Homo sapiens: one gene and its partners. The protein of the gene in region 3 interacts with the protein of the main gene of each other region in a biochemical or structural test. Each region holds a gene or a part of one and is shown on either strand. Other genes may lie near its edges.

Region 1 (8,840 bases), on a different chromosome or scaffold from region 3:
CCCTCTTCTAGAACAAAAAGGTTGAGAGAGTTTTATTAGTAGCAGCAAGACAGAATCCCAGGTGTACAATATACAGTCAGGCCTCTCCATGGGTTCTGCATCTATGGATACAAACAACCGAGAATCAAAAATATTTGGGGGAAAAAAATGGATGGTAGCATCTGTACTGAACATGCACAGATTTTTTTCTCGTCATGATTCCCTAAGTAATATAACAACTATTTATATAACATTTAGATTGTATTTGGTATTATAAGTAATCTAGAGATGATTTAAAGTATATGAGAAGGTATGCATAGGTTATACGCAAATACTACACTGTTTTATGTCAGAGACTTGGGCATCCGTGCATTTTGGTATCTGAGGGGAATCTTGGAACCAATCCTCCATGGATACTAAGGGACAATTGTAATGACTCTCCTCACCTTTAATCTGCTCTATAGAGATCCTCAGGGCCACTTTTTATGGCAGTCACAAGCAAAGCTGTGCTTTCAGAAGAGTGAAGTCTTGAGTTATAATCCAACATTTAGCTTTTGTGCTCAGCTTAATACAGATTATTTCCCTTAGCAATCTAAGTTTTGTGTTCAAATTACTATAGTCATGCCATACTGAAACTATCTGTTTTTTCCCTCTACTGTACAGTACAGAAAAAAGCTTTAATTACACAATCACACAACTACACTCACTACATTTTACTATTCTCAGGTGTTCTGGTTTTTTTGTTTGTTTGCCTGTTTTTGAGACAGGGTTTCACTCTGTTGCCCAGGCTGGAGTGCATTAGTGTGATCATGGCTCGCTGCAGCCTCAATCTCCCAGGCTCAGGCGGTCCTCCCACCTCAGCCTCCCAGGTGGCTGGGAGTACAGGCACACACAGGCATGCCTGGCTAATTTTTTGTTTATTCTCATAGAGACATGGTTTCACTGTGTTGCCCAGACTGGTCTTGAACTCCTAGGCTCAGGCAAGTTGCCTACCTCAGCCCCGCAAAGTGCTCGGATTATAGGTGTGAGCCACTGTGCTCGGCCTTATTTTCAGTTTTCAAAAAGAGAATTTCTGTTATAAAATTGGATTCTTTCAATGTAAACACCCATTGCTATAGCTTATCCCATAAATTATGCTTTTCTGTACAATGGAAACACAGAGCATTCTTAAATAACAAGCTACACTTGCTAATTCTCTTAAGTAGCCACCACAACTTGGAAACTAAAAACAGGTAAACATTTCTTGGGGAACAAATATAAGATCATGATTTTAAAATGCATCTTGAAAGAACACTTTATTTAGTGTAAGAGAATAGATTTTGTCACATTAAATTGAAATTATGACATTCAATTTTTATTTTTACCTAAATGGAAATATTATATTCATCTAATCAAAGATGATTTTCAAAATTAAATGTAATTTTTGCCAAAGATATTAAGTTTTAAACAACACGTTTTTATTTTTTGTCATAGCAAAGAAATGATGACTTTATTGAATTAGACTACACCATTCTACTTCATAATATAGCATCTCAGGTAAAGTATAATTTACCTTTATTTGATGCCATTCTGAAAACTGAGACTCCTTGTATAGCCACAGTATGCTTTATTAATTTTGACTCTAAATCAGAATTCATGTAAATCCAGATAGGCACCAGATTTAAGTATATTATAATTGCAGCAATTTAACAAAAGTACTATTCTTTGTGAAGACTGTTTTATCTCTAACAAAACATAAACCCAACTACGTTTTCCTAAATGTTTTCTGAATTTTATCATGGCATTAATTTTCTTCACTTGCAGGAGATTATTCCCTGGCAAATGCAAGTTCTCTGGCATCCACAATACGGCACTAAAGTAAAACATAATAGCCGTCTGCCAAAGGAAGTACAACTGGAATAAACAAAAACCCTAACACTGGAAGTGTAAACATGTCTATTGATGTGTATGCCAATTTCACTGGCATCTAGCTTATGAGGCCAAATAATCCCAAAGTGTCACTTTATATAAATGTCTTGATTACAGTATAGAACTTTATAGAGTCCATAATACAAAGTATCACTACATAAAAATGTCTTTAAAACAGTAATAGTGGTATGTATATCCAAAATAAAAAGCTTCAATTTCAGCCTCATAATGTTTAATTACGTTGCATACTTACGGGACAGGGGCAGTAATGGTCTCTCGAAAGGCAACTTTTGGCTTTCCTGTGATACAAGGACAGCCATACTCTCTTTCCAGCCTCTAAAAAGAGTGGGGAAAATATTATTTAAATTTAAAAAAATAAACCGAAAGAAAACCTCCTAAGCATCTTATATATCTTAGTAGCATTCACTTAAATATAATAGATAAACAAATCTTAAATCATTTTAGTATCTTATAAGGATTAGGTATGTGATACTTAATACAAACTGCTTTTACAGATTTTATATAAATGAATTCTAAGTTACATTGATTAATTTATATTTACCTCCAATTAATCTAACCACTAAAACGTCACCATTGTTGAATATTATTACATATTCACTGGAATAATATATAAATCTGTTGTCAGGATTTTCTATCTCAACTTCAAAGATAAGATCTCACCAAAATTTCTAATCACATATCTTTGGTTTTTACTTATATATCAATACATACAAGACCTTTCCTGGGAAGGTATAGGCCCCATCTTCCCTTCCTTTTATCTATATTATAATGATCTTCAAGTAATGACTTGAGAAGAAATGGCCTGAAAAGTTGGTACAACCGCAGGTTGTCTCCCTAAGGCTTGGACCAGGATTTACTTGACCCAGTTACCCATGACCTGGGGATGGACAGATATTCTTGTTGCAAATCCCCTGAGCCTTGATTCTAGGAGTCCAGAACGTTTTACAAATAAAAAGATTTAGAGATCGAAAATAATTATTTTGTAACACATAGTAGAGGAAGCAGTAGACCACATCTGGATACAAACCAGAGTGACGCATGAAGAACCAGAGTTAGTTACAGACATTAGATTGAGAATTATTGACTTTTAATGAAACAGACAGTAATAAATTGATTTCAACTTAACTTCCTTATTATTCATTACCTGAGCATAGATTTCCAGGTGTAATTCTCCCATTCCAGATATAACTGTCTCTTTGTTCTCAGTGTCAAAGTATACTTTAAATGTGGGATCTTCTCTTGTAAACCTGCCAATACCTTTTGAAAATTTTTCCAGATCGTTCTTTAAAAGAAGAAGAAAGTCACTATATGTTTTACTGAGCATGATAAGCAATGGGATTTTAGAAAAAACTTTACTGAATGAAATAAAATACATCAGCAGTTAAGAAATAAAAATGATACATATCTAGTTCTACTCCACACCATTTTTAAAAACAATGTGAGCTTGGATACCACACAGCCAAGACAGCAGGGAATAGCTCACTGAACAGAATTTTCTTTCCACACCAAGATAGAAAACAAGAGTCCAAGACTTAACTCTATGCCCTGTCCTCTTACATTGACACACTGTCCTTTTGTGAAAATTGCCCATAAAGCAGAAATTGGAATCTGTGTTACATTTTAGAAATCCTATACATAATCAAAGGAATCAGCATGTTTACCAAGACACTACTGTAGATCCAAGCAGGATACTTAAGACCAACAAATAGGCAAATACCACGATGAGACTTGTCCCTTTCAAAACAATCTGCTTGGATGTGGTATGATGTACCCTTTTTCTCCTTAGATGCCATGTAATCCCGCGTGGTAAGCAGATTAATGGCCCTCCAAAGATACCCTAATCCTCCCAAATCTGACAATACGCTGCCTTACATAGTAAAGGGGACTTTGCAAATGTAACTAAGGTTACAGACCTGGAGATGGGGAGATTGTTATCAATTATCTAGGTGGATACAACATAATCATGTGTGCCTTTCAAACATGGAGGAGGAAGCTAGAAGGGGGGGTCAGAGGGATTCCATGAAGGAAGAAGTGGCAGGAGATATCTGAAGCAAGAAAGGGACTTAACCAGCTGTTGACGGCACTGAAGATGGAGGCAGGGGGCCACAAGCCAAGGAAGGTGGGTAGCCTCTAGAAGCTAGGAACAGCCCTCAGGTAACAGTCTTCAAAGAAATGGGGAACCCCCATCCTACAACCACAAGGAATTGAATACTGCCAATAACCTGAGTAAGAAGGAGAGAAATTCTCCCATAGAGCCTCCAGAAAGGAAAACAACATTACCAATATCTTGATTAATTTAGCCCTTTGAGAACAGCTATCAGCCTATGATCCACAGAACTATAAAAGTATATATTTGTGTTGTTTTAAGCCACTACGTTTGTGGTAACTTCTTAAGTCAGCAATAGAAAACTAACATGCCCAGTACAACCAATATTAACAGCTATCATTTACCACATACCTGGAGCTGTGGTATGTGTTTTGCCTATGTTTTCTCAAATCCCAACCACAATGCTGCAAGGCAGAATTATCCACATTTTACAGGTGAGGAAATGAGGTACAGAGAGGTTAAGTGATTTGTTCAAGGCCACACAGCTATTGCATGGCAAAGCTGGGACTGAATCCCAGTTTAGTCTTTCTAGGTCTTTTGCCTTTTTTCTGCACAAGCCAGATACTCTCAAATTAGAAACATCATGCCTGCCCCCACTATTGAGACTCATGGAGACTTCATTATTCGATTTAAATTAACTTACTCCAGCAAGCAGCCATCTTTAAACTTTTTAATGCATACACAACCCCAAAACAACAAAAAACCTTCTGGATATTGAAGCATTGATTTCCCTCCTTATTGTAAATTATCAACAGTTAAATGCCTTAAATAAACTCTGAATTTAGGAATGAAGAAGCATAATACATAAGCATAAGTTCTAACCTTGCATACTTCCAAAGAGAAAAGCAAGCAATTTTAACAATGTACTTGGAATAAACTATGGCATCCTACTGAGGTTAAGATGTAAGGTTCACCTTTCCTCAAATTCCTGAGAAAATGGAGAAATTTAATATTTCCTGCCACCTCAATTTTCTCTTTTCTATATTGAGAAAAGGTCTGGAAAATCCCAAGGTTCCTCAAAATAGATGTAGTAGTAGCAGCTGTTAGTGATATTATCACACGTGACAATTCATCAGAGTATGTTTTGTAATAAGTTCTGTATAACAAATCATAAAAAGTTCACTCAATGTATGAATAAGTGAATTTCAATATACCACATTAACATGATTGTTATGAATGCCAAGGCAACTTAAGAACTAAAAAGTTATGGTTTGAGATCAGACTAATTCCCATGGCAAAGAATGAAAATGCAAAACCTAATCATGCAATTTTGGATTTATTAAAAGCTAAATTACATCAAACCCAATTATAAAACTATAAAGTATAAAATTATCTTAAAAAATATTTCAAAGTGGAAAAAAGTCTTATTTACAGGCTTTCCATGCAATACTCAGACATTTACCTCATAACTACCAGAAAACCTAGAGCTATTTTATAACCCATGAGTCAATTAATCAGTTCAACATTCTAAAGTACTTTATAGTGGGGTTTTACTACAACTTAGGAGAAGTGCCCGATTCCCCTTTTCCAATTGTGTATGATCTGAATCCGGGAAGTTACACTTAACACTCTGAAGCCAACAATATAGTAAAGAGTTATAAAGTACAGTCAGGTGAATATTTTAATACCATCCATTTCTTCAAATATACTGAGGAGTTATCATTAGAAACAGACTGGTAAATTTAAAAAGAAGATCTCAATACCAACAGAGGAAATAGAGACCATAAGACTGCTGGTTATTACAAGATATCAAGTGCATTGTAGAGATAGATGAAAAAGAGCTCAAGTTTTAATTGTGATATACTGAGCTTTAAATCAAACTCCTACCTTGTTAGAAGGCTTCATTGCTATTGAAATGACAGGATCAGGAACATGAATTGACTCCTAAAATATTTTTTAAAAGAAAACAGAAGAATTAAAAAACAGACCCATATGGGTCAGGGATAGATTAATTTTAATGTGCCACTTTACAACAGAACAAAGGATAAATAGTAGCCTATGTCTTTAGGCTAGACAACATATATCTTGATCTGTTTTGCATTAAATAAGTACATTAATACAACATATTAATAAATAAATAAAGCTATCTACTTATATAGGTTCCTCCTTCCCAAAATAAAATTAATGAATGTATTTATTGCCCTGTTTAACATAATCACTACAATTAATCCAAATACTGAGATGTGAAATTCTTATTGCTTGGTGGCTGTTGCAATCTTCTAAGTTATTTTATTTAATCAAAATATAATACAATTACTGATAAGGCAAACAGAGAAAGGGCACCAAATTCTTCATACCCATGACACCTCATTTAATGAATTACAACTCTGAGAAGCAGGTATTATCCCCATTTTACGAATGCAGTCACTAAAGGCTTGGAAATAAGGTAAAACAAATTGGCTAAGGGCCAGTAGGTAGTATAGGGCAAAGGTGAGACTCTAACCAAGGCCTGTTTGTTTCAATGCCTTGGTAAGCACTTCCCACAACTACCAATCACTTCATGTTGCTAATGACCAGTACTTAGAGAAGGCCTTATCAATAATACTTAGAAAACATTCCTTTTATCTAGATCTCAAACAAAAATTGTATAGATTTATGTTTTTTTTGTAGTGTCTTAAATCAACAGGTAATAATATACACATTAGAGGATACTACAGATAAAAAAACTAAACTATAAAATCATGAATTCATCATTAGATAGCAGGAAGTATTACAGTGCTATTCTGTTAGAGTTGGGTCAGTACTTATGTAAATGACCCACTGCAAATTACCTGTCACCCTATGTACTCATCATACTCTTTCTTTACTGAATTCATAAAAGAGATCACTCTCATAAACAGATGGTCATAATGTAAGAGAGTTTGCTCTCCTACAGAGGCAAAAAAGGTGAGTGAGTGAAGGGAATTCAAAGGCAGGAGCTACCTGTGCATGCTCTTCCCTCAGAATCCCTCAATGATAAAAAGGGACTTCTGAGTTCCAAAGGGCAGGCTATTTATATAAGTCAGACTCTGTAGTTGCATATTGCCTATTGCCTTCTGAGCCTGGTTATGTTCTGTTATCCCAAGTCTAGTCTAAATGTTACAGTCTGGTCTCAAAAGGGATTGAGGGAACAGTATACTTTCTGGCTACTGAGTTAATAAGGAAGTAGCACTCCACTGAAACTAGCTTGATGTTAGTGGTAACAATTAGAAATGCACCCCAAGTGTGGAAGCAGGTCTCAGGGTGGAGGAATCAGAGCCACACTGTCCAGGTACCATCTGGTGGAGATATTTCCTCCTTGCTAAACTTGGGAGGATTGTGGATCCTCCAAGTTTTCCTTTTTACTATGAAAAACCAGGTAAGTTAGCTTACAGAGCACTTGTCTAATTGACATTCAAAGAGCTATAACCAACATTCAAAGAGCCACAACTAACTTGATGACTGTGGTACTCAACGAAAACTTCTGTGGTTGTTTTTCTGAAGTATTAAATGCACTACATAAAAACACAGACTTTTAAAATTCTAGTGATAAGTAGCTTTGAAATTAAATGGCTTACCATAGAAAGGCCGCTGTTGGCTTTGTCTGTGAATGTGTCTCCACTAGCACAGTCAATGCCAAACAATGCACAGATGTCTCCGGCATATACTTCCTCAACATCCTAAAAAAACAAATAACACAAAATTATATTTGCAAGTAATACAAATAAAGATGTGGTAACTAAAAAGTAAACTGTACAGTACACACATTGTATATAAAAAAGCGTGGCAGAATCTCTCTGCTTGAATTCTATAGTGAATTAGCTAGAACCAATACAATAATCAACCATGCTAAGACGTATTTTTAAAAGGCCTTCATTTAAACCATATATCAATAGACAAGATTTTACTTTAAACAGAAAACTCATTACTTGAAGGAGCTGCAGTACTAACAACACAGTGCCTCAAGGTTCTAAAGTTATTTCTATGGAATTAAAAGGCATGTACTGGCGGGGCATGGTGTCTCATGCCTGTAATCACAGCACTTTGGGAGGCCGAGGCGAGTGGATCACCTGAGGTCAGGAGTTCAAGACCAGCCTGTCCAACATGGTGAAACCCTGTCTCTACTGAAAATACAAAAAATTAGCCAGGGATGGTGGTGGGTGCCTGTAATCCCAGCTACAAGGGAGGCTGAGGCAGCAGAGTCGCTTGAACCCAGGAGGCGGAGGTTGCAGTGAGCCGAGATCGCGCCACTGCACTCCAGCCTGGGAGACAAGAGCAAAACTCCATCTCAAAAAAAAAAAAAAAGGCATGTACTATATATGTTGCCGCAGTTAGACAATGAGATTGTGTATGACAGAGATCTACTCTGTCATACATACTCTTCCTTTACAGGAAACCTGTAAAGGAAGTTTTGAAAACAAAGGTAGGAGAATGGAGCCCACTGTACTAAAAATAATTTTAATTTCTCACAGATGCAAGCAGTCAAGAAAACACAGGAAATCTAAGAACAAAGCATTGGTGCCTCCAAGCTTCCTAGTTTTTGTCGTTTTACATTGACAGTTCATTCACAACAGCTGTGGCTGTGAGTAAGCATGTCTTTCTTTAATGGTGACACAGCTGTACAAATCTTCCAGCTTCTGGTCCATGAAACAGCTATGACAATCACTTAGCCTGCCCCCTGCTGCCTATCTCACAAAACAGCAACGCTGTCGGGTTTTCAGACTGACAATTCCTCTTCTAGAAGAAACAAAAGTTATGGCTACCAAAAAATTCGTTAAGATTTTGCTTCAACTGATAAATTTCTCCAGGAATATATAGATGGATTGGGAGAGGGTGGGGGTAGGGGACAAATTCAGGCACTCAGTAT
Region 2 (11,524 bases), on a different chromosome or scaffold from region 3:
TCATCTTATAGCGGTTCAGTCTCACCGCATCATGCAACGGGGTATCTCCTTCCTAGAGAAGCAGAGTCAACAGGTTCAAGGTGGGTCTGAGGCCAGGAAGTGGGTCCTGCAAGGGCACCCAGGCTTGGGGGAGTGATTCCAAATACAAAAGCAATGAAGCTTTGGGAAACCCGAGCGTGTCCAGCTACTCACTCTGTCTTTGGCGTTGAGGTCTGCCTCACAGGCGATAAGATGCTCCGCGCACTCATAGTGGCCAGTCCTCACCGCCACATGCAGCGCTGTGCTGAGCAACTGGAAAATTGGAAAACGCTGCTGATTCGCTAGGAATGAGGACAGAGGCTGTCCCAGACCCCAAGACATGTGCGAGGGGGAGAAGTGGTCACTAGGGTGCCTGCACACAGCATGGGCCTCCAGATGACTTTAATGGAGAGGCGAGGTTAGGAGATGGAGGGGTGGGGGAGGAGGGAAGGGCGGGTGGGGGAGAAGGAGGAGGGGGAGGGGGAAGAGTGGGAGAAGTGGAGAAGGATGGGGGACAGGGAGGGGGAGGGGGTGAATGAAGGGAGAAGGAGAAGAAGGAATACCTTATCTCGGGCGCTAATTTTTGCTCCTTTATTCAGCAACAATTTTAAAACATCCAGGTTTCCTCCACGGCTTGCCCAGTGGATGGCTGTGGATTCAAGCTATACCGGGAGGGAAGACCCGACAATGTGAAGGAGAATGTGGTCTGGGGAATTAGAACCTGGTTGCTAGGGCATCCGTGAAAATAATGAGTTGTCCCCATCTAGATTGACAATTCTAACTGGAGTCGAAGGTTCTTACCAAATGTGTTAGCTAAATTACATGTGTGTGTGTGTGTGTGTGCATATGTGTGTCTTATTAGGAGGCTCTTAATAAATCTAATAATGTTTTAAAAGAATAAGAATGGCCACTTATTGAGACATTTCTCATGCCAACATGGTGCTACACTTTAGACACCTTGATTCTTCCAGCAACATTTTGAGGTAGGTGTTGCTATGCACATTTTGCAGATAAGAAAAACCAGGTTCCAAAAAGTTCAAGTTTCTAGCCCAAGGAAACACAACTAATAAGAGGCAGAATACACAGTCAAACTCCCCTCTGCCTGGAACTTCTAACTTCTTTTGTCAAATGTACACAAAAGTTCTAAACACATGTATTTAAAAATTTTGGCAGAATAAAAGTAGTCCCTTCCAAAATATTTTAATCTGGATCTGACACCTCATCTAGGGTCCCTGTCGCTCTTTCTCTACTTCTGTGGGTTTTCTGCTCATTTTTGCTAGCACAGCCTCTGTACCTCAACTGTAGTCACTTGTGTCTACAGTTGTAACGTGTATAGTTACCCCTAGGAGACCCTCTCCTCACTGATCTATGTGGTTGGTATGCCCCTGGCCTTAATCCCACACTCATGATTTTTAGTTTCCATGCAAACTTCATATTTTGTTTCTTGATTTTTTTTTCAATGTGTTTATGTTTTGGATTCAATTTTGGCCAAGTCCCTTGGATTTCTTTGATATCCCGTTGCCGCTTTGCTATAAAGTCAAAATGAGCTGCATTTAAATACATAAAGAATTTTCCCAGCTCAATCTTCAGTTCATAAATTATGCTGCATACTGGTCTTCGTAGAAATCACAGTGATTGAATTATTGAGGTCTGAATAGCAGCTACTTTCCATAGATGCAATTCATTTCATATGCAGTCTAGCCCCAAATCTCATTGGTAGCAATTGGCATCTATCATATAAAGTGTGCAGCTAGAGAATTCGTATATGTTGCTGGCAGCCAACCATAAGCAGGCTGCCCTGTGAACAATGGAGGGACAAGGCTGTTGAAAGGCAAGTGTCGAAAATGAATGACTAACTCGCTGATGAGGATATTGAATTCAGTTTAACAGCTTTCACTTCCTTCTTTTCCCTGAAATATTCCTCTATTTTCAGTATGTATGGAAAATATTTTCACATGACCTACTCTCATCTCCCAACTTTCCTTTATTTGGAGAAATGAGCTTTTGCCTAGTTCTCTCAGATCAATTTTCAATCCAATCAGCTCGGTTTTGCATTGGAGGTTTTCCGGAGCTTCATATAGTCTACTTCTTTTGGCTCATTCCCAAGCAAAGAAATATATTTACCATATCACGGAATTCGATCTGGGCTCCAGCTTCCATTAACTTCTCCACAATTGCCAAATGTCCTTCCAAGCATGCTCTATGAAGAGCTGTCCGTTTATACTATCAGAACAGAGATTTTAAACAGAGATAGCAATAAATATAAAAATGTGTGTAAACCCTTTTAAGAGCTATGAAGCTGGAGATTCTGATGACCTAACTGATAGAAACTCAAGTGCTTCTTTATGAATAGAAATGTCAAAGTTAACTAAAATTGCAGAATCAGAACAATTATCCTGCAACTAATATTTGAGCTTCCTCCAATATACATTTCCAAGGGCTCAAAGGCCTACGTTGAGGAGTGTGAACTTAAAGGCTCAAAACTATCTAAATGCTGACATCTCCGTTTCTTCTATCTTGCACCTTCCTTGTTCATGTAGCATTACCATGCAGATCAGACAGCTTTCTTGCATCTGGGACTGTTGCTAGACTATCAAAAAGTTTCCATTCATTTTTAGGAGAATGGGAGACATGTTTTTAGTTCAACTTCAGAAGCGGTCCCCAATTTCACTTCATGGGGGAAAGAATACAAAAAGATTAGTGATTTCTGATAAATTGGCTTTATTTGAATGGGCTAATGAACTATTAGAGCTGGAACAACTTTAGGCGTTATTTCACTCCAATGCCCCATGTTTACAGATAAGGAAACCACAGCCCAGAGGATGCAAATTAGCTGCTCAAAACCAAATAGCCAAGTAGTGGTACAACTGGCCCCTGAACTCCAATCTCCAGATTTCTTATCTAGTGTTGACGTGCTTGGTTTTAATCAAAGATGATGCTAATAATATATCTCTAAAGGTGACTTTTTGGCCCACATTAAAAGTCTTATCCCAAGAATCTAAGAAGTTAAAGAAAAACTGAAAAATCAGCCAGATGTATATGAGTGCAAAAAACAATGCAATCCGTATCACTGATCTAATATCTATTTATTTTTTGGACCACTGAACTCTCCTATTAGGCTCCTGGCATACACAGCAACAGCTGGGGAAACTGTTTCAGGTGGAAGGACTTTGGCACTATATTAGCAAGACTGGAGTAAAGCATAAGAAACATAAAATTAATGAGCTGGATTTTGCAGTGCTTTGCATGAGTCTTACCTCATCACAAACATCTGGATTGTTCTTGTCTGACAAGAATTTTTCTACTACTGGCAGTTTATTCTCCAGAGCAGCCTTCAGAAACGTAGGCACATCCACAGGTTCCGTCTAAAGCCAAAATAAATAAATATATATATATATATATATATATAGCATGAGAGTTACCGTGAGCTTGCCAGCATTCAATCAAACCCTCCACAGATATTTGCTCCCCTGTAGCACAACACTGGACATGTATTACTGGAAACCAAAAAAAAAGCCCTTACAATGATTTCAGGTTCTGGTTCCTTTACAACTGGAACTTTAGTTTTCCTGTATTTTTTCCTTTTCTTCAGTTGAATGATTATTTCAAGGTCTTCTAAATTTTCAAGCTTTGATCTTTGTTCTAGTTTTTTCTTTTTGAGCTAAAAAAGAAATTCGTATTTCAAAAATATGGTGAGTTCTACTGACAAGCATTCTGGTTGTGTCTAAACTAAATCTGCAAGGTCTGAGATAAACATGTGAACAGTTTGAGCAAAAACATTTTTTAAAAATTATATAAATCTTTGACTTCATTTTAGGGATTTCTTATTCAGATATTTATCTGGGAGTCTAATTTTCAGCTAATTGCCATCATCTTTACTTCTGTTGCTTGTAGAATCAGCCCTTGACCAATTGAGGACACGATCTGGTCTCTAAGTGATGACTTTGTAATTAATGCCATAAGCAAGTCTTAGATTTTTAAAGGATTTTTAAAATTATGCTCAAAACTTGGTTTAATTTTTGAGCATGATAAAAAGAATCTAACAATAAATGTTAAGCTCTGAAATATCAATGTCATTCTCTTTCACTAAGCAGAGCCTTCTAAAACAGACTGTCCAGGGACCACAGCTAACTAAAGCAAATTTTATCTGTGTTAGTAATTAAGGAAAATTCACCCAGAAACACAGATTGTGTCAACACAGATAGCAGACAGTTAAACAATGATCTATGGACCACAGACCATGTTATTGAGAAAAAGAGATCTCCGTTGCTTGGGATTAACTACATGGTGTGTAACATCAGGAATTCACTGGACATGTGTATCTTTCAATCAAAACATGGTCACAGCACATTTATTCATTGATTCAGAATTCAGAGGTCATAGTCTTGTCAAAGAGTTATTTCCCAAAACCTGTTCCATACAAGTTGCCTCTTTACGGGTTAGAATCTGGTAAAGAGACATCTTAATGATTGGGTTTGTTTCTCTCTTCTCCTTCCCTGACATTTCCATTCCCTACCCCAGCCCCAACATCCTACTAGTGGATTCCACAGATGGCTCTCACCTCTGCCTCTCGTTGTTTCTCGCTTTTCCACTGTTGCTCCCCCAGGGTCACAGGGTGGGCTAGAAGTGTCTTCAGATCCTCCTGCTTCTCTAAAGTAACAGCAGCTTCATACTCTCCATCTCTGAAATCCTCAGGAAGGAATTCCCCTGCCTCCCCATTGCCATTCTTCTTTCCAGTGACCTATGAGGGAAGAAGATGGCAGCGTCAGAAGCAGCAGCCTCGTCCTGGGTCATTCTTCACAGACAATGCCGCAGGAGGCTCTTGGTCCTTCTCCCCTGGGAACAGCCACCTTTGAGCAGTGCACTCTCAGATCTCAAGCTGCGATGCACACTGCTACAATTGTCCCAGAATTACCTTCAGATGCTTGTCCTACTCTCTTGGTTAAATCAAAGCTTGGGTTAGGTTGACAGATTAAATCTACTTTTAATCTGCTTAATCACATTTCTTTTAGGAAAATCAAAAACCTTCTCTGCTTAATTAAAACTCAACTTTAGGTACTTTTGATGAGTTTCGCCTTATTGTAAAGTTTCCGGGCTTACATTCTTTCAATAACACTTCTTCCCTAAGACATTTTGATAACTACACGTGATTCCACACTGTAGTAATAAAACCAAAGGAGAAGATATTAAATAGGAAATATGCAGAGAATTCATTACTGGTAGCTCCATTTTTTTTTTCCAATTTCACTTGTTTCATCACATCAACCTTTTTCCATATATGACATTTTCAGAGTTCCCTTGCATTACACCTGAAAGCAAAGGGCATTTCAATTTTCAAATAAAAACCAAGATGAACCAGTTTTCATTTTATAAAATTAATGCATCTTACATACCAGTTCCTCTACTTTCAGTACCATCATGTTGGCTGAAGGAGTCTTGTATGTTTTTCTGTCGTGGAAGGAATCCCTGGAGTTGGCCCTGCTGGGCCCCTCCACACCGGTCAGCTTATATAGCTGGGGCCGGGTGAGATAATCTTCCAACCTGGGAACCGAAGTAACACTCCCACCCCCATTAGGAGCCAACTCAGAGGCAGGTGAATTTTCATTCCAGACTCAGTGTCTGGGAAGCTGAAGAGGGAGGGGAGGACAAGCTAACCCTGCTGAATATGTGAATCAGGAAGAAATGTGAGAGGGCCATTCCTTTGGTGGTGATCACATCGCTCAGCAATGCAAGTCATCCTATTTGTCAAGAGTCAGGGGACAGCTGTCTGTTGACATTGCACCACATCACTGCCCTTTTTTTCTTTGTCAGCTTTCATATGACTACCTATCAAGAAAATGTAGATGCCCTACATATCACACCCCCAGTAATATCTTTCTGATAAGCAGACTTATCAACACTTCACTTAGGGGAAACTTGTCCCAGGACATCCTATTCCCTGGGTAAACAGCCTGAGGGGAAGGGATCTGGGCCCTAAAGGCACTTGTCTATATCTGTTTGGAATTCTTTGGAGTGATGTCTGGGGCTAAATAGGCCCCATGACATGCCACCTTACCATCATTATAAGAAATTGAAAGCATTCAGTAATGCACTTTTCTTTTATGATGTCACTGGCCATAATTAGCACATGACATGCTTACCGTGTTCTAAAACAGCATAATAATTGGAGCATTTTTACTTCAAAATGGATCAGAGTGGTCAAGAAATAGAGTAAATGAAACCAGCTATCAGCCGGGTGCAGTGGCTTACACCTGTAATCCCAACATTTTGGGAGGCAGAGACAGGAAGATTGCTTAGCTTAGGAGTTCAATACTAGCCTGGGCAACATGGCAAAATCCCATCTCTACCAAAAATACTATATATATATATGAAAAAAATGAGACCAGTTATTAGCAATGGCAGGACTCTGATTAGGTCATTGAGCTGAAGTTCTCAAATGCTGTGGGGAAAGGAATCACCTGTGGGAGCTTGTCAGAAATACAGATCCCTGGGCCCCACTCCAGGGAATTCTGAGTTGATTTATGGTAACTCGTAGGAATCATCTTGAATTTCAAAGCACCCAGATGATTCTGATGCATCAAGATTTGAGACACGTGGCTGGAGGGATAATGCACTTTGCTTCCGGAAGGGTTGAAAAAGGTCTCTATTTCTGGTTTCTAATCTTTGAGGTGTAAATTATGTAAAAATACTGGGGTCTTTTTATAGTTTCAGGAAAAACTGGGTTTTTTTCAGTAAAAGAAAGGAGAGAAGAATGGGAGAAGGGAATTGTGAATGGAGGGAAGTGTTAATTAGGAAGTTATGTTTGACCTTTGTGTGTCTATTTCTCCCCAAACTCACCCAATCAACAAATGTGGCTGCCATTCTCCTCTTCCCCCTTGAATGCTCAGTCAGTGGATGGTGTTTCTGAAACTTTGAGAAGACATCGACTCCCCACCCCAAGACAAAACATTGACAAAGAGGGACCCTCCCAGTACCTCCTGTATCATATGTTCCGGTCTCCTAATATTCTATCTTAAAAGGGGGTTAATTAAAGGAAATCTCCTGGGCTTTTCTTTGAGATGGACACAGCTATCACTATTTTCTTTTTAATTTTTTCCTTTTCTCTTTATTATTTATTTATTTTTAATATATGGAATGTTTCACAAATTTGTGTGTCATTCTTGCACAGAGTCCATGCTAATCTTCTTTGTATAGCTCCTATTTTAGTATATGTCCTGCTGAAGCAAACAGAGTCATTACTATTTTCATTGGTCTCTTCATCTAAGTCAGAAGTAGTCATGGACACTTTTTCTACCATTTCGTATGCCTTTTTGTTCCAGGCCTGACCCAAACTGAGGGAGGTATTAGGAGGAGAAGTGTTTGGGGGAAGGACTGTGGGATGTTTAAGGGTCTTGGATATGAAATCCCAGAGCTGTCCATGCCCTCGAAGTTGGAGCAAGACTAATGCTCTCATTTTACAGAGAGGATGCTGAGGCAAAGAAACATTAAGTAACTTGCTGCAGATGCACAGCTAGTTGGTGAATGCTAGGTTGAAGAGTCCTGATTCCATCCAACAGAAGCAGACAATCATTGAGCCCAAAAGATTTCCTAGGGCAAGTCTCACCTAGACCCACTCAGGATGCAACCAAAACTGATTAAATGGCTCCTTACTGTTTCAATCACCTCAAAGAATGCAAGTGAAAGTGGGCAGGGAGGCTTACCAAGCCCTTTTCTTTCTCCAGGCATTTAATTATCCCTTGAAACCTAGCTGATTCTATAGAGAGGCTCCAGGAAGTCTTGAAGAAAACTTTGCAGAGGATGACACTTGAAGATGAGTTGATGGAATGGGCTGAACTTAAAGGAGCACGCTGGTGGATGCAAGGATGTCAGGGCTGGTGAAATCACTGCCAGTTCAACCTTTTCCCATGTTGATCCAGCTTGTCATTATAAAACATGAGAGGTACAACTTGAGGATAAGTGGTCAGAAGATGTAAAAAGAATATGACAACAAATAAAGAAAAAAAACATGAGAGAATCTGCTTTTTGAAAAGAGATTCTAGGCACCTTTAGCTCTCTAAAAAGATAAAAACAACAACCATTGTATTTTCAAATCGTTCTTATTCATCAAAATTGAGAAAAAAATTCCCCTGGCGGAGAGTTTTCTGTCATTTGTTTTTCAGAAGCATCCTTCCCATAAAAGTTCACCCAGTGGTGTAAATTCTTATATTTGTGTATTTGGCTTTATCATAGCCTCAATCTGGACATAATCTATCCTTACTAAGATGAATTAAAACAATAAAGGTCCTAGTTGGTTCTACAATCATAAAGCAACTTGGCATCACCCATCTCCAACCAGAAAGAGTAAAGGAAGCATCCCTGAGCTTCTCCAGTGTCACCCCATGAGCCTTTTCCCACTCCCCTCAGGATTTATGCATTTCCATGGGTGAAATGACATGTGACTAGAATTAGGACCATGGTTATAGCTGGAGAAAGTGAGAAGCAGAGAAGTAGCACCTAAAGCAATTACTGCTGTCACCTAGGGATTAAAAGAGGCGCTTGGACCCCACCCAGATCCATGTGCCATAGCTCAGCTCCAAGTCCAAGGGCAGTTTTATCTTTCTGTATAAAATATGAAGTTCCAGACGTTCTACTTCTACTCCAACTTTTCATTCTTATATTTTAACTATATAATAGACACATTATTGTTAAAAATAGCACAGAGAATGTTATTTAGTTCAGATCTTACTGTCGATTTGATACTTGATTATTTTTCGCTCAGTAACCGTGTCTTACAGATTGTCTCCTATCTGCACAAACAAATCTATCTTGCTATTAGAAACAACTGCATGAATTTCCATGCACGGACCTACCATTTCTTATTTAACCACTTTCTCATTTGTGGACATGTAGGCTGTTTTTTTAAAATGGGCATTTTTATTTTCTAAAAAGGCATTTTATAGCACATAAAATTTTATTGTTATTAACACTCCTTGTCCTTAGAACACCCAACTTGATACTAAAAGGAAGTGCTCCAAGGACTGTAGCCAGATTCTGACTTGGAAACCTCCTTGTTCCACTGTTGTACTTACAATTGCTCATTTTGCCATCCCTTTTAATAGCCTTCCCAGTCCCAGCTGTTACGCACCTTCCTTGGCCCAGAGAAGTGGCTGACTTAGCCTGACCAGCAAGCCATGGCTCAGTTACGTGTTTGAAAATGCCAAAGGAAGGTCATAAAAGTGAAGCAAATAAGGTTTAATGTTGTTTCCCCTCCCCTGCCAGGAATGGGATAACCTGTATTTGAAAAGCAGAAAAGTACTGGAAACATTTTCAGCAGGATTGTGGCACCTGCCTTCCTTGCCTCTCGAAAGGCAGAATCAAGACTAAAGTCCTTCTGCCCAGGACTCTGGATAGAAAGGGCACAAACTGCCCTAACACAGTTGGGCTGCCCACAGTAGGTTACTTTTTACGGATATCGGTGGCCTCCTGACGTTAGAGGTAGGTGAAGGCTGTAGGTCTCACCTCCACACCTTACAGCAGGTGCCTTGTTACAGTAAATAAGGTATCTCAGTGCAAATTCTGCCACACATATGAACTCACACCAGCCAACAGGCACAAAGGGCCACATGCACTATTCAGTAAACTCATGAAGCCCAGCCCTTTGTCCATTTAGGCCCTTGGACAGTGTCCAGCACAAAAGATTCGCTTGACTAGGCATGGTGGCTCATGCCTGTAACCTCAGCACTTTGCGAGGCCAAGGCAGGAGGATCACTTGACCCTAGGAGTTCGAGACCAGCCTAGACAACATAGCGAGATCCTGGCTCTATGTTTTTTTATTTAAAAAAAAATAAAAGAAAAAGTTTCACTTGAAGCAAATGAAACCACAACCACATTCTGGCAGCATATTTCAGCTAATTTTCTAGTCCACTCAAGGTGATTACAGACTCCTCCACATATGGCCTAACACAAGATAGGATGGAGTCCTAGCACTCACTATAAGCCTAGGACTCCAACTGCATAGAAAAGTGCCTGACACATAGTGGGGCTAAATAAATATTTACCTGAGACCCAGCAGGGCTCATATTCTTTTCTAACCAAACCACATATTTCAAATTCTCCTTTCAATGAGAAATAATTGGTAACATTTCTCATGCTAATTAACCATTAATCTGTCAATACTATCAAAGGTAAAGATAGGTAAAGTACTTGGGATTACCTCCACTGGAGTGGGGGCAGCTCATTAGTGTCTTTCAAATGCTAACTAACCCCAACAGTTGTAATCGCAGAGTCAGGGCTTCTCAGGTGTGAACTAACATTTCTTCAAGCAGTGATTCTCTAAGCTGGGTGCATCTTAGAATCCTCTGTGAAGCTTCTAAAAAAATGCTGATGCCCAGGCTTCAGCTCAGGCACATGAAATCCAAATCTCTGCTCAAAGATCCAAGGAATTGGTATTTTTTAAAGTTTTCCAGTTGATTCTAATTTCCTCCCAGCATTGAGAATACTGCTCGAGGGTGTAGAATTAAATGAATATGTATCTAAATACACGTGTATTTTCTCCAAGTTGTAGTGGACAGTCAAGCTATTGTTATTCTGGTCTCAGAATTTTGATTGTTGAAGACTCTTGCCTATGCTAAGACCATGGGAAACACACACATACAATTTACTCATTTATTTTTTATTTTATTTTATTTTATTTTATTTTATTTTATTTTATTTTATTGTTTTGAGACAGAGGCTTGCTCTGTTGTCCAGGCTGGAGTACGGTGGCACGATCTTGGCTCACTGCAACCTCTGTCTCACGGGTTCAAGCAATTCTCTTGCCTCAGCCTCCTGAGCAGCTGGGACTACAGGTGCATGCCACCATGCCCAGCTAATTTTTGTATTTTTGGTAGAGATGTGGTTTTGCCATGTTGGCCAGGCTGGTCTTGAACTCCTGGCCTCAAGTGATCCTCCCGCCTTGACCTCCCAAAGTGCTGGGATCACAGGCATGAGCCACTGTGCCTGGCCTACTCATTTAATATTTATTTAGCTCTACTTTGTGTCAGGCATTTTTCTAGAGCTGAGATATACTTATGCTCTCAAGAGACACACGACTCTGCCCTCACGGCATTCACACAGTTTTACTGAAGTATTTAACAAAAACTACAGACAATATAACATGCTTCTTCTGCCACAAATCAAGAAGAGTGAGGCGAGACAGTAGTTTTGTGGGTCTGGTGGGGATGGGATGAAGAATCAGGAGGCTTACCTCTAAATCCTGGCTTTGCCCTGTGTTCACTGGAGCAAGTCCTCTCACCTCTTACCATCTCAAATCCTGAAGTTATAAAAGGAGAGCTGAGAACAAAATGATTTCTAGGGCCCTAAAGTTTTACTGAGGTCTCAAAGTCACTGAATCAAAAGGTAGAAATAAACATTCATAACTGCAGCATCACGTGCGGACAGTGAAGTTGATTCTCCAATGCCTCTAAAAGAGGAAACGGTCCATAAAGCTTTCACTAGCCCAGGATATTTCCACTATCTTTAAGACATT
Region 3 (11,600 bases):
TCTCTGGATTTCATAACAAGTATTGCTATTTTTTCATGTCTCAAGTTCCCACTGTGACAAGTAACAAAACATAAATTTATTGCAATAAATAGAACATGAAAGAATATTTGTGGTGTTGCTTAATCAGCTGGGATTTATGGGGCAACTATTCTGTGCAAAGCACTGTACTAGCTCTGAAACTTGTTACGTAAGAATATTTGTGGTATTGCTTAATCAGCTGGGATTTATGGAGCAACTATTCTGTGCAAGACACTGGACTAGCACTGAAACTCTTGTTATATAAACTCTCTTAATATTAGGTTGGTGGCAAAGTAATTGCTGTTTTGGCCATGAAAAGTAATTGCAAAAATCGCAATTACTTTTGCATCAATCTCATAATTAATTGGTTTTTAATTGGCTGGTTAAGTTTTTAAGAGACAAGTGTGTATTTGTATTTTAAAGTAGTGAAATACAATGAGATCAAATCTGTAAAGTAACAGCAACAGCAATAGTACTTTTGTTCTTGTCAAGAGACTTTGGAAGCAAGGGAAACAGCCAGCTGCAATCTCTGCAATATGTCATCAGCAATTCTTCCCCAAACCCATCTAGATCCTGGTACTGTCTAATTTAGTTTTGGATCTTTAGCGGAAATTAATAGCTATAATAATTATAATAATTATGTTAGATTTATAGAACAGCTTTCCTTCCAAGAGCACAAGCCTCTTAGAGCTCTGCAGATGTTCCATAAATACGTGTCCCCTAATGGAATCACAATGAGGCCATTTCTAGATGGTCTCAATATTGCTATCAAGCTTTGTGGACTGGACTGACCTGCACACAATTGAAAAGGGGCTCTTCACACCGTGCCTTCTAGGAATAAGCTTCCCGCAGCATTGTGTCTAGGAAAGGAATTCTATAGCCAATGTGGTTTGGTGAATAAGAAGCCTTTTTTGTTATTTTTTAAAAATGAATGGATAGATATATAATGCTATCACGATGTTATTCACAATCAACAAGTGAATGCTGACTATGCAGTAAATACAGTATAAGGAATAGGGAAACATAACCTGAATTTCACCCTTTTTTTTCCTCATGGCTCTGAAGTTTAAGTCCCTAAAGGCCAGGGTTTTGCCTTGCTTTGTGACTTCCCTTAGAGTAAATACAGTGACAACCTATGTTAGAGGATTTTGTTTTTATTATCATCCAAACAATTTTAAGGCAAGACTGTCTGAACTAGGAACTGGGCTACTTCGGAAGATGCCATTTCTATTAATTTTCTATTAAGTATTTACTAGATTTTTTTTTCTTTGCTTTGTAGGGATCTGGAGCTACAAAGTGCCTGTGAAGTGCAAAATGTGTAAAATGGATGTAATACCAGGCTTTAAGGTGGAGGGGGACAGCAGTATGTCTCTTTCAGCATCACCATCTGGAATGGATTGGTGTTAATGAGTCACTTCATTCTTAAATTGATACAAAAGCATGGGCACCAACTCCCCTCTCTCCTGCTGTGAGCAACTCTCAGTCTCACTGGGAAGGACTGACTTGGAAAACCATTTTTCCATAAAACAGTCTGTGATTGATAAACAAGCATTCAGCGTAGCAACCCATTAAAACAAACAAACAAAAACAAGTTTCAGATGGGCTTGACACATGGAAGAGTGGAAGAGTGTTACCTGGTGGACTCCTGCTTGTAGATGTCAATGATATTTTCCACCAGCAGGTTCCTCTGAAGTCCATATACCCCATGTCTATCCAAAACCACTTCATGTCTACAGGATGGGCAGCGGAATCGGCCCCCTGATGCCATGGTGGTACCTCCTCTTGTGGGCAAATACGGGTTAGAGGCCTGTTCTTGCCAAGTAAGAAAAAAGGAATTGGGTAATGCCACAAGCAGCTTCTCTGAGACTTATTTTCACTCTCTGCTACTACAAACAACATGAACTTCTACTTTAAGCTTGCCATAAGATCATCCCTCAGGGCTTTCTCAGCAAGTGGTCCTGAAACACAGGGTCAGACCTTATCCACAGTCATCTGCGAATATACCATTGTCCACGTAAGGTGCTTTTCCGTCCACCACTTTCAGAACCAAAAGTTCCAGCCAGAAACTCCACACTCATGTCTTCAGCAGTTACTCATTTATAGTTTTGAAACACATTAAATGGTTTGACTTAAAAAAAAATATGATTCTTAGTATTAAAATAAAACTAGATTTGGGAGTAAAGAGGACACAAACCAAATCATTAAAAGAAACGTGTTTTTCTTGAAAGTAAATGCAACTTTATAAAGTTTTTTTGTTTGTTTGTTTTTCTTTTTTTGAGACAGAGTCTTGCTCTGTTGCCCAGGCCGGAGGGCAATGGCACGATCTCCGCTCGCTGCAATGTCCGCCTCCTGGGTTCAAGCAATTCTCCTGCCTCAGCCTCCCAAGTACCTGAGATTATAGGTGCCCGCCACCATGCCCAGCTAATTTTTTTTTTTTTGTATTTTTAGTGGAGATGGGGTTTTGCCATGTTGGCCAGCCTGGTCTCGAAGGCCTGACCTCAGGTGATCCACTGGCCTCAGCCTCCCAAAGTGCTGGGACTACAGGCGTGAGCCAAAGCGCCCGGCAACCTTATAAAGTTTTTTAAAGGATTTCACCTCAATGTTAAGCACTTGATTCCAAGAGGAGGGAATCTTTTCCACCCCCTCCCCTCAACCAAATTCCAAACAAACCTACCTGGAAAATATCACTGGCACATTTCCTACACAGGTTGTGCTGACAAGGGAGAATCACCACAGGTTTCGTGAACATCTCTAAGCAGATGGGACAGATGAGTTGCTTCTCTAAGTTATCCATGGTCTGCTGCTCTTTGGAAAAAGATTTGTAATTCAGAGATGCGCTCATCTCCTCGCTGTCCCCAAGTGTGCTGCCAGGGAAGGGTGCTGCGAGTGGCTCCAGCAAGTGTTTCCTGGATATTATTCCAGGGATTGTGTGATCAAGTGTCCTTTACGTTTCTCTCGGTGGAGGACATTGTTTCAGGCCCTGGTTTGGAGTGGGTGCTGGAGCTGTTTTTAGCAGCCTGCGGTCACGTGACGGTGGGCTGACGTGTCCATATAAGCCAGTGACAGGAGGATGGATCCTGACAGGTGACGGAGAGCAGGAGTCAACATTCTTGCCCCAGGGAGTGAAGAGAGTGGGTGGGAAGGAGGATTACAAACCCCATTTAGACGGGGTTGTGAGGAGAAGGAGGTCGAAGCTGACAGTTGTCAACAACAAATGCAAATGTGCATGCCTAGCCACTGAACCATGCCCTCTGTGAGCACTCACTGAGAACTTGGCGATGGCTTCTCCAGGAAGGGGCAGAACGCAGCACAGAGTCTGTGTAACTAATGCCAGCCCTGTCTTGAGAGTGTAGGAATTGAGTCACGGAAAGTAGCCTAATAGCACCTTCTTAGGTGAAAATGAACAAAACATGTCTCGAAAATTGTTATCCTGGCTTCACAAAGGCAATCATCAAAAAGACTTTCTTAATGTTAAGTATTTCATCTTTGTCAGCTGGGGTTGTGGTCTTTGAAAAATTCCAATTTAAAAGCTAAATTCAAATCCCTTCACCATAAAGGTATCCACCTAATAAATAAATAAATACATGCATAAATAAAAATTCAAAACCAGTGGATGATCTAATTATTTGAGAAAAAAGTTACATTATAAAACAACTCTAGTATGCTGTTTGCTCTTCCACATTGCTTTCCTCTTCCTTGGCCCTCTTTCATCCTATACTGCCCCACCTCCTACATACACCCAAAAACACAAAGAAAATTTGATAGTCTTTTACTGATTATTTAAATTCTTAAATTATATAATAGTTTGCAACAATAATCTGTAATGAGGTAGTAACTGGCAGGCACCTGGAGGTGGCAGATCTATTATTTTATTTTGTCATCCCTTGGGGGACAGTTACCAGTGCCATTGACAACTGAAGTATAAATGGAGTCCTACTTCCATATCTGCATTTCATCTGCCTCCAAAATACCTATTCTCCCTTGCATTTCCCCTTCCTCCAAGGTGACTTGTTAAACCATAGTTTCTCTGGTCATTTCTGATATTCTTGGTCTGCTCTTGAGTCATAAACATCGATTCTGACATTCATCAGGATTTTGTGAAGCAACAGTTTAACCAATACATATTGTATTTAAAAATGTTTAAATCAGATCAAAAATAAAAAAGAAATCCAAGTCTGTTTATATGTGATAAATTTCGGCTTTCTTTCTCCTTCATTTTAAAAACCTTGGGCAATAAACACATTTTGTTAACATATCCCTGGTGTGAATTAAATTACCAGTGAAGTGTAGGTCAGTTATGTGTGGTCTTAGTGCTGTGTGCACGGAGAGCTTATTGAGAATCTAGTAAGCTCTATTAACTAATAATAAGTTATATATATTCATAAGCATATCAGGGATCTTTAGAGAATTATCTTAGTCCTTTCAATATTTATTTAGCAACTACAGGGAGGACGGGAACTGGTAAAGTTTTTTTACTGAGTTACTTTGGTTCACCCAGCCTAGGCAGTTAATTGTGTTTATCAATTCATGGGCTATGGAGGGGAGGTCTGAGTACAATATGTGGGATATTTTCTAGGAAAGATTAAGTTTCTACTGCAAAAGACCTTGCTATCTAAGTAAAAGCACTTAGACTAATCATGCACATTGCAGCAGAGTCTTTTCTTTTAGAAGGAATTCATTCCTTCAAAATACATTCATTGGATATGTGTAGTGTGTCTCCATTGTGTGAGGCTCTGGGTATTGAAAGATGAACAAGACATAGGTCATTGGCCTCAAGGAGCTCAGTATAAGAGTGGAGATGAGACATGCACACACAGAACATAGTACAAAATAAAATGTGATAAAGAGTACAAGCCAAAAAGTACCTGAGACAGGTCTCAATCGAGAAAGTTTGTTTTGTCAAGGTTAAGGGCGCGTGCCAGGAGGCAGGCCTGCATCTTTCTCCAAAGAAGATTTCGAAGGCTTTAATATTTAAAGGGAAAAGAATGGATATTGGGGAAAGAGAAAAAAAATTTCAGTTGTGGGTAGATAAGAGGCAAACAGTTGCATTCTTCTGAGTCTTTGATCAGCCTTTCACCAAATACATAATTTACATGTTGGGGCTGGGCGGTGGGTAGAGGAATAATAGTCATTTATGTCTTCCTTTAGCTCAGTGAGTCTGCATTTTTACATTAGAGGAAGAAAGCAGATATGCATTTGTCTCAGGTGAGCAGAGAGATGACTTAGAGTTCTGTCCTTCGTACCATGCCTGTGAAGATAAGCTGTCAATTTACACTGTCAGGGTAAAATTCAACAAAACTGTTTTAGGGTAAAGATATTGGGGCCTATAAGGAATTTCCCAGTGTGCAAATTGTAAGGGAGGTATGTAGCGTTTAAATCTTTGTAGCTATCTTATTTAGGAATAACGTGGGAGGCAGGTTTGCCTGACGCAGTTCCCAGCTTGACTTTTCCCTTTGGCTTAATGATTTTGGGATACCAATATTTATTTTCCTTTCACAACAGCTACAGCATTTCAGGGTCAGAGGAATCAGAAGGGCTTCATGGGTGGGGGTAGTGTTTGAACTGCTGCACCGAGGATCTCAGAGGGATGGACGTGTAGTTAGGTGGGGCATGGCTGGGGCTTTCCAAGAGAAGGCACAGAAGCAGCAACATGGGCATGCACAGGCATGCAGGGGATCTCAGAGCCACGGTGGCTTGAGCTGGAGTGCAGGCACGCGCTCAAGCATTGGCTGGCCATGGATACTGTGCTAAAGAGTTTTTAACACTTAATAAGTTAAGCAGCAGGAAGTCGTTAAAAGTTTCTCACTGGACACTTCCGTGAGAGCAGTGGTTGGTTAGATTGATCTTTCAGCGATGATTGGGTTAGATTAGCATGAAGGTGGCTGGCTAAAAACCAGATCAGAGGCTGTTGCCAATAGTCCAGGTGAGAGGTCGCGAAGCCCTGGCACAGGTCATGGCAGTGGGGAAGGAAAGGAGGAAATGATCCCTGGGGCTGCTATGAAAGTAGAATCCACACAGATGACTCAGATGCCTGAGCCTGAGTAACCGACGATGTAGTGAGAGGCTGCAGAGTGAGTCAGAGACAGTCAGGCTTTCTCCCAGCTTCTGCATCTACCTCCCTTTGTGGTCTTGGAAAGTGACTTCACCTAGGAGGATTTCAGTTCTGCCCTCTATAAGTGAGTGGGGTTCATAACCTAATTTAGCAGTATTTGTAGAAAAAAACAAAAACCTCTGAAACAGAATTTTCTTTTAAGAGACAGAGGGTCACTCTGTTGCCCAAACTGGAGTGCAGTGGCGCAATCATAGCTCACTGAAACCTCAAATTCCTGGGCTCAAGCAATCCCCCCACCTCAGCCTCCTGAGTAGCTGGTACTACAGGCGTGTACCACTATGCCCAGCTAATTTTTTAAATTTTTTGCAGAGACAAGGGTCTTGCTATGTTGCCCAGGCTGGTCTTGAACTCCTGATTTCAAGCCATCCTCCTGCCTTGGCCTCCCAAAACTCTGGGATTACAGAGCTGATCTCTATCTTCCTTTCTCTCTCTTTTTTTTTCTCTCTGTTCTTTCTTGCTCCCTGCCTTTTACTTTTTCTTAGAACTGTCCCTGGAGGCTACACAGGAAAACAGCATGAATCCCACAGGAGTAAGAGCCCAGTTGATGAATGTCAATGAAAAAGAGTAAAACTCTGTAAAATATTTGAAAAGATTTACTCTGAGCCAAATATGGGGACCATGACCTGTGACAGCCCCAGGAGGTCCCGAGAACAGGTGCCCAAGGTGGTCAGGCTACAGTGTAGTTTTATAAGTTTCAGGGAGACATAAGACATCAATCAATATATGTGGGGATATACATTAATTTGGTCTGAAAGATGGGACAGCTCAAAGTGGGGGCTTCCAGGTCATAGGTAGATTTGAAGATTTTCTGATTGGCAGTTGGTTAAAAGAGTTAAGATATTATCTAAGGACCTGGAATTTATAGTAAGATATGTCTGGGTTTAGATAAGGGGTTGTGAAGACCAATGCCCTTGTGCAGAAGAAGCTTCCGGGTAGCAGGCTTCAGAGAGAATAGAAGTTAAATCTTAGTTAAATCTCTCCTGGATCAGGGAAAAGACCTGCAAAAGGAAGGGATTCTCTATAGAATGTAGATTTTCCTCAGAAGAGACAGTGTTGCAGGGCCATTTCAAAATATTTCAAAGAAATATATTTTGGGGTAAAATACTTCAATTTCTTTCAGGGCCTGCTATCTGTCATACGATGCTATACTAGAGTCAGATTGGAATTTGGTATCTTATTGCTACAAAGAGTCTGTTTGTTCAGTCTTAAGATCTCTGTTTTAGTGTTAATACTGATCAGCTAAGCCTGAATTCTAAAAGGAAGAGGCTAGAAGGAGTCATGTGTGATCTTCCCATAATGGCCTGAACTAGTTTTTTAGGTTTACTTTGGAATGACCTTGGCCGAGAAGGGGCATCCATCAGTGAGTTGGGGGGCTTAGAATCATATTTTTGGTTTACCTTGTGAACCCCGAAAATCTGAGACAGGTCTCAGTTAATTTAGAAAGTTAATTTTGCCAAGGTTGAGGATGCATGCCTGTGACACGGCCTCAGGAGGTTCTAACGACGTGTGCCCAAGGTGATCAGAGCACAGCTTGTTTTTATACATTCTAGGGAGACATGAGACATCAATCAACACATGCAAGATGAACATTGGCTTGGTCTGGAAATGTGGGACAGCTCGAAGCAAAGGCGGGAAGATTCGAAGCGGGGAGGGGGATTCCAGGTCCTAGGTAGATAAGAGACAAATGGTTGCATTCTTTTCAGTTTCTGATTAGCCTCTCCATTTATGCATTTATCTCAGTGAGCAGAGGGGTGACTTTGAATAGAATGAGAGGCAGGTTGGCCCTAAACAGTTCCCAGCTTGACTTTTCCCTTTAGCTTAGTGATTTGGGGGCCCCAAGATTTATTTTCCCTTCCCAACATGAATAATAACCACCTTCCTCTCTGCATTCTTTTTTCTCCATTCCTTGCTCCTCCCTGCTCTCAGACACCAATCCATGGGGTGGGTGTGTGAGCTGTAAGTGGGACACAGGAGGGAGTGCTCTGCTCTAAGGAGAAATCAGAACATTTTATTCACTCCCAAATCATTCACAGGGTCCAGGAGGTTGGGGAAATTCTGGACTTGAATCAGAATTTAAGTCATCTTCAGGCTCCGGGATTTGGAGTGGACCTGAGCCTGCGCAGGGACATGAAAACCAGCTGATAAAAGAAAAAATTTAGACAAATTAAAATTAACAAAATTTAATAGAACAAAGGATGATTCATGAATGGGGCAGCCCTCAGAACCAGAATAGATTCAGTGATTCAAGGGCTGCCCTACGGTTGGATAAGATTTATGGACTGAGAAAAGGAAGTGATATACAGAAAACAGAAGTGAGGCACAGAGTTAGCTGGATTGGTAACAGCTCAGCGTTTGCCTTATTTGAACCCAGTTTAACAGCTGACCACCTGGGATTGGCTGAGACTCAGCGACCTGTTACAAGAGCACGTTACAGTCTGTTTAGACACCCAGTTGGGTGACAGTTCACTATGTACAAGAAATCTTTAGGTGAAACCTAAAATATGTATGAAGGTAGCTTTAGGTCAAACTTAATTCAACAAAGTGTAGTCTCCTGAAGGTATTTTGGTTTATATAGAAGGACTGCATTGCTTGCCCCACTTCCACCCCCACTCTTACCACACACATCAGGACAGAAGCTAGAAACTGATCGGGAGCAATTACACAGGGAGCTGCCATGGTTGGAAGTCCTGGTTGTCCCTCGTTTCTGAGTCCCACCAGCCTGGGGCTGGAGTATGTTAAGACACATTGAAAAACTGAAGCAAAGTCACCACCACCTTCCCCTCTTTCAACAGTTTTCCAGTCTCCCAGGTATGTCTGGGGAAATTAGATGGGTCCCTAGGAACCTGAGTGTGCACCCAACAGTGGATGTGACGCTGAAGGGTAACAACAAAAAGAGAAGGCTTTTGACCTCTTTCAACCTGTAGCTGCCGGGCCAAATGGAACCAGGCTTTTTCAGGGGCCAGGGCCCAGGAAAGAGATGTAGATCTGCAATGGAATTCTGACATGACCTACCTGGAGTTAGGCCAAATTTCACAAGTAAAGGGCATGGTCTGTCCTGACTTCAGACACCAACAGCAAACTCTGGGGTTCCCAGGTCCTGCACTTCTGACCAACTGGCTACAAATTTGGAGGTTCCCACTACCCCCTTAGTTTGGTAGAATGACTCACAGAACTCAGGAAAACATTATATTTATGATTACAGTTTTATTAGAGCCAAAAAGAATACAAATTAAGACCGGCCAAAAGAAGAAATGCATAGGGCAAGGTTGCAGGGTGTCCCAAATGTGAACTTCCATGTCCTCTCCCAGTGGAGTCAGGATGCATCACCCTCCTGGCACACGAATGTGTAACAATGCACACAGAGTGCTGTTAACCAGGGAAGGTCACCCGAGCTTCTGTGTCCAGAGTTCTTATGGGGGTTTCATTATGCAGGCATGATTGATGGAATCATTAGCTTTGTGACTGATCTCAATCTTCAGCTTCTCCTTGCCTCCCTGGAGGTTGGGCTGACATCACATGGCTTAAAGCCCCAAGATTCTCATCTCATGGTTGGTCTTTCTGACATGGCTAGCCCCAACCCCCCTTCCCCGTCCATAGTTATCTCATTAGCATAAACTAGCAGGGCCCACGATGAATAACAAAGGCATGTCTGTCACTCGGGAAATTCTAAGGATTTAGAGGCTCCCACTCAGGGACTTGGGACAAAGACCAGCTAAGTTCTTTATTATATAGTAAGAGCTCAGTGTGTTTTTCATCTAGGGAAGAGAGGAAAGGGATGCTAAAATTATTTTTACTATTATACCACTACAACAAATATGATAAATATGTACTGAATACCCATTACTTCATGTCACAGCTCCCTGTCTCAGGTATTATTATCTCCACTGAGTCAACTGTGGCTGAGCAAGTTAAGTAGTTGCCCTGAGTCACGTGGCTGCTGAACTGTGATGCACACTGAGAGACACATCTTTTGAGCACAGAGCCCATGACCTCACCCACTAAGCTGCACCACACCCATGCTTTAGAAGGGCACTGTCCATAAGAATTTCCGCTAATGATGGAAATGTTCTATATCTGTAGTGTCCAATCTCTAGTCACTTGTGGTTCTTGAGTACTTGGAATGTGCACAGTGCAGCTCTGAAACTAAATTTTAAACTGTATTAATTTAAACTTATATTTAAATGTCCACATGTGGATAGTGGTTATTATACTAGACAACCAGCCCTAGAACATGAGATATAAAAAAATATTGGGGGCAAATTCAAATGCATATGAAGGACTCTCCAACAAGAACTGGGTCACCGTCTTTTGGTGATTTTGTACTCTCTGGCTAGAGTGATGTGAATCCCCACTCGCCCCAGAATGGTCAGAAGAGCAGCACTGATTCTTCATTGTAACTGTCAAAATAGGTCAGAGCATTCTGAGAACGGGAGACATTAGAAAATCCCAAAGAATCCTGAAGATTCCAGAACATCCTTGGCATTTCACTTACCCATGTTCTCTTTTGTCTCTTTGGTGCAGGTAATTGCAAGTCCAGGTACTTGAAAATAATCCAGGCTTAGTTTAAGGAGCCATTTGTTCATCAAACAGAACAAAGAACTTATGGTTAGATGGAGAGTACAGCTAAAAGGAAATAAAAAACCGATATGGTTTGAAGCAAAACAGTGAGCAGAGAGAGTGCAGTCCTGATGAAAGAGAAAACAAGAGGAGTCGGAAGACTGATCTTACTCTTGGCTCAGCCTCTAAGGTAGAAAGGAAGTATTCTTGCTTTCTTGTGCCCACTGGAAGTGAGAAAGAGGGTGGCTGCCTAAGAATTAAAACAGGGAAAGAACATCAGATGATGTGGATGTGGAGGCAGAGAGTCAGTGATTGCTGAAGAAGGAAGTTTAGTTGGGCTGGAGCACTAGGGCACCAGTGGACCAAGACTTTCAGGTCAACTCCAGCACCAATATAATCTGAAAATTATTTTAATCCCATGCCAAAACAAAGGTCAACACTTAATCTTGTGCAAACCAGGTCCTCTTAAACTGAGCCAGTGAGGCTGTTAATTCTTTCTTGCAATATTCACACATGCATGCATGCATCCACCTGTCCATCCATCCATCCAACCATCCATCCACCCATCCCTCCCTTTTTTAGTGAGAACACCACTCATGAGCAGCGGAGAGAAGGCCACACTTCATCTGGGATTTCAATGAGCTGGTGTTCCAAGCACCAGGCTCTGTTATCAGTCCTGCCAGATATAACCCATCTGACCACAGAAGGCATAATGTTATTTCCTTTGGTATCCTAGAGCTCAGGGTGTGGCCCAAATAAAGCACTTTCTAACCATTATTTGGCTTAGAAATTTCCCTCCATGTAACAACTTTAAAAGTTATTCCAAAAAATATAACCCAGAACTCTCTTTCCATACAAAGATTCTTGCCATCCCTTTGCACTGAGGACTTGACCCATGACATCTACAAAATAC

Evidence for each region.
Region 1: the proteins of TRIM55 (region 3) and GFM1 form a complex in vitro, tested with the Homo sapiens proteins (one study listed by BioGRID).
Region 2: the proteins of TRIM55 (region 3) and ANKRD1 form a complex in vitro, tested with the Homo sapiens proteins (one study listed by BioGRID).

Annotation. Positions count from the first base shown.
Region 1 is NC_000003.12:158,659,687-158,668,526, reverse strand, and holds part of GFM1 (elongation factor G, mitochondrial), read right to left. Parts: intron 7,654-8,840; coding exon 7,552-7,653; intron 5,900-7,551; coding exon 5,843-5,899; intron 3,191-5,842; coding exon 3,053-3,190; intron 2,224-3,052; coding exon 2,141-2,223; intron 2,114-2,140; exon of another isoform or gene 1,882-2,113; coding exon of another isoform or gene 1,783-1,881; intron 1,516-1,782; coding exon of another isoform or gene 1,453-1,515; intron 1-1,452. Other genes in the region: LXN (latexin), read left to right, coding at 1,453-1,515, 1,783-1,881. UniProt on the Homo sapiens protein: Mitochondrial GTPase that catalyzes the GTP-dependent ribosomal translocation step during translation elongation.
Region 2 is NC_000010.11:90,915,590-90,927,113, forward strand, and holds the start of ANKRD1 (ankyrin repeat domain-containing protein 1), read right to left. Parts: upstream 5,499-11,524; 5' UTR 5,439-5,498; coding exon 5,412-5,438; intron 4,760-5,411; coding exon 4,580-4,759; intron 3,680-4,579; coding exon 3,542-3,679; intron 3,384-3,541; coding exon 3,276-3,383; intron 2,242-3,275; coding exon 2,143-2,241; intron 681-2,142; coding exon 582-680; intron 292-581; coding exon 193-291; intron 53-192; coding exon 1-52. UniProt on the Homo sapiens protein: May play an important role in endothelial cell activation. May act as a nuclear transcription factor that negatively regulates the expression of cardiac genes. Induction seems to be correlated with apoptotic cell death in hepatoma cells.
Region 3 is NC_000008.11:66,118,529-66,130,128, reverse strand, and holds the start of TRIM55 (tripartite motif-containing protein 55), read right to left. Parts: upstream 3,001-11,600; 5' UTR 2,861-3,000; coding exon 2,693-2,860; intron 1,831-2,692; exon of another isoform or gene 1,826-1,830; coding exon 1,653-1,825; intron 1-1,652. UniProt on the Homo sapiens protein: E3 ubiquitin ligase that plays an important role in regulating cardiac development and contractility, muscle growth, metabolism, and fiber-type differentiation.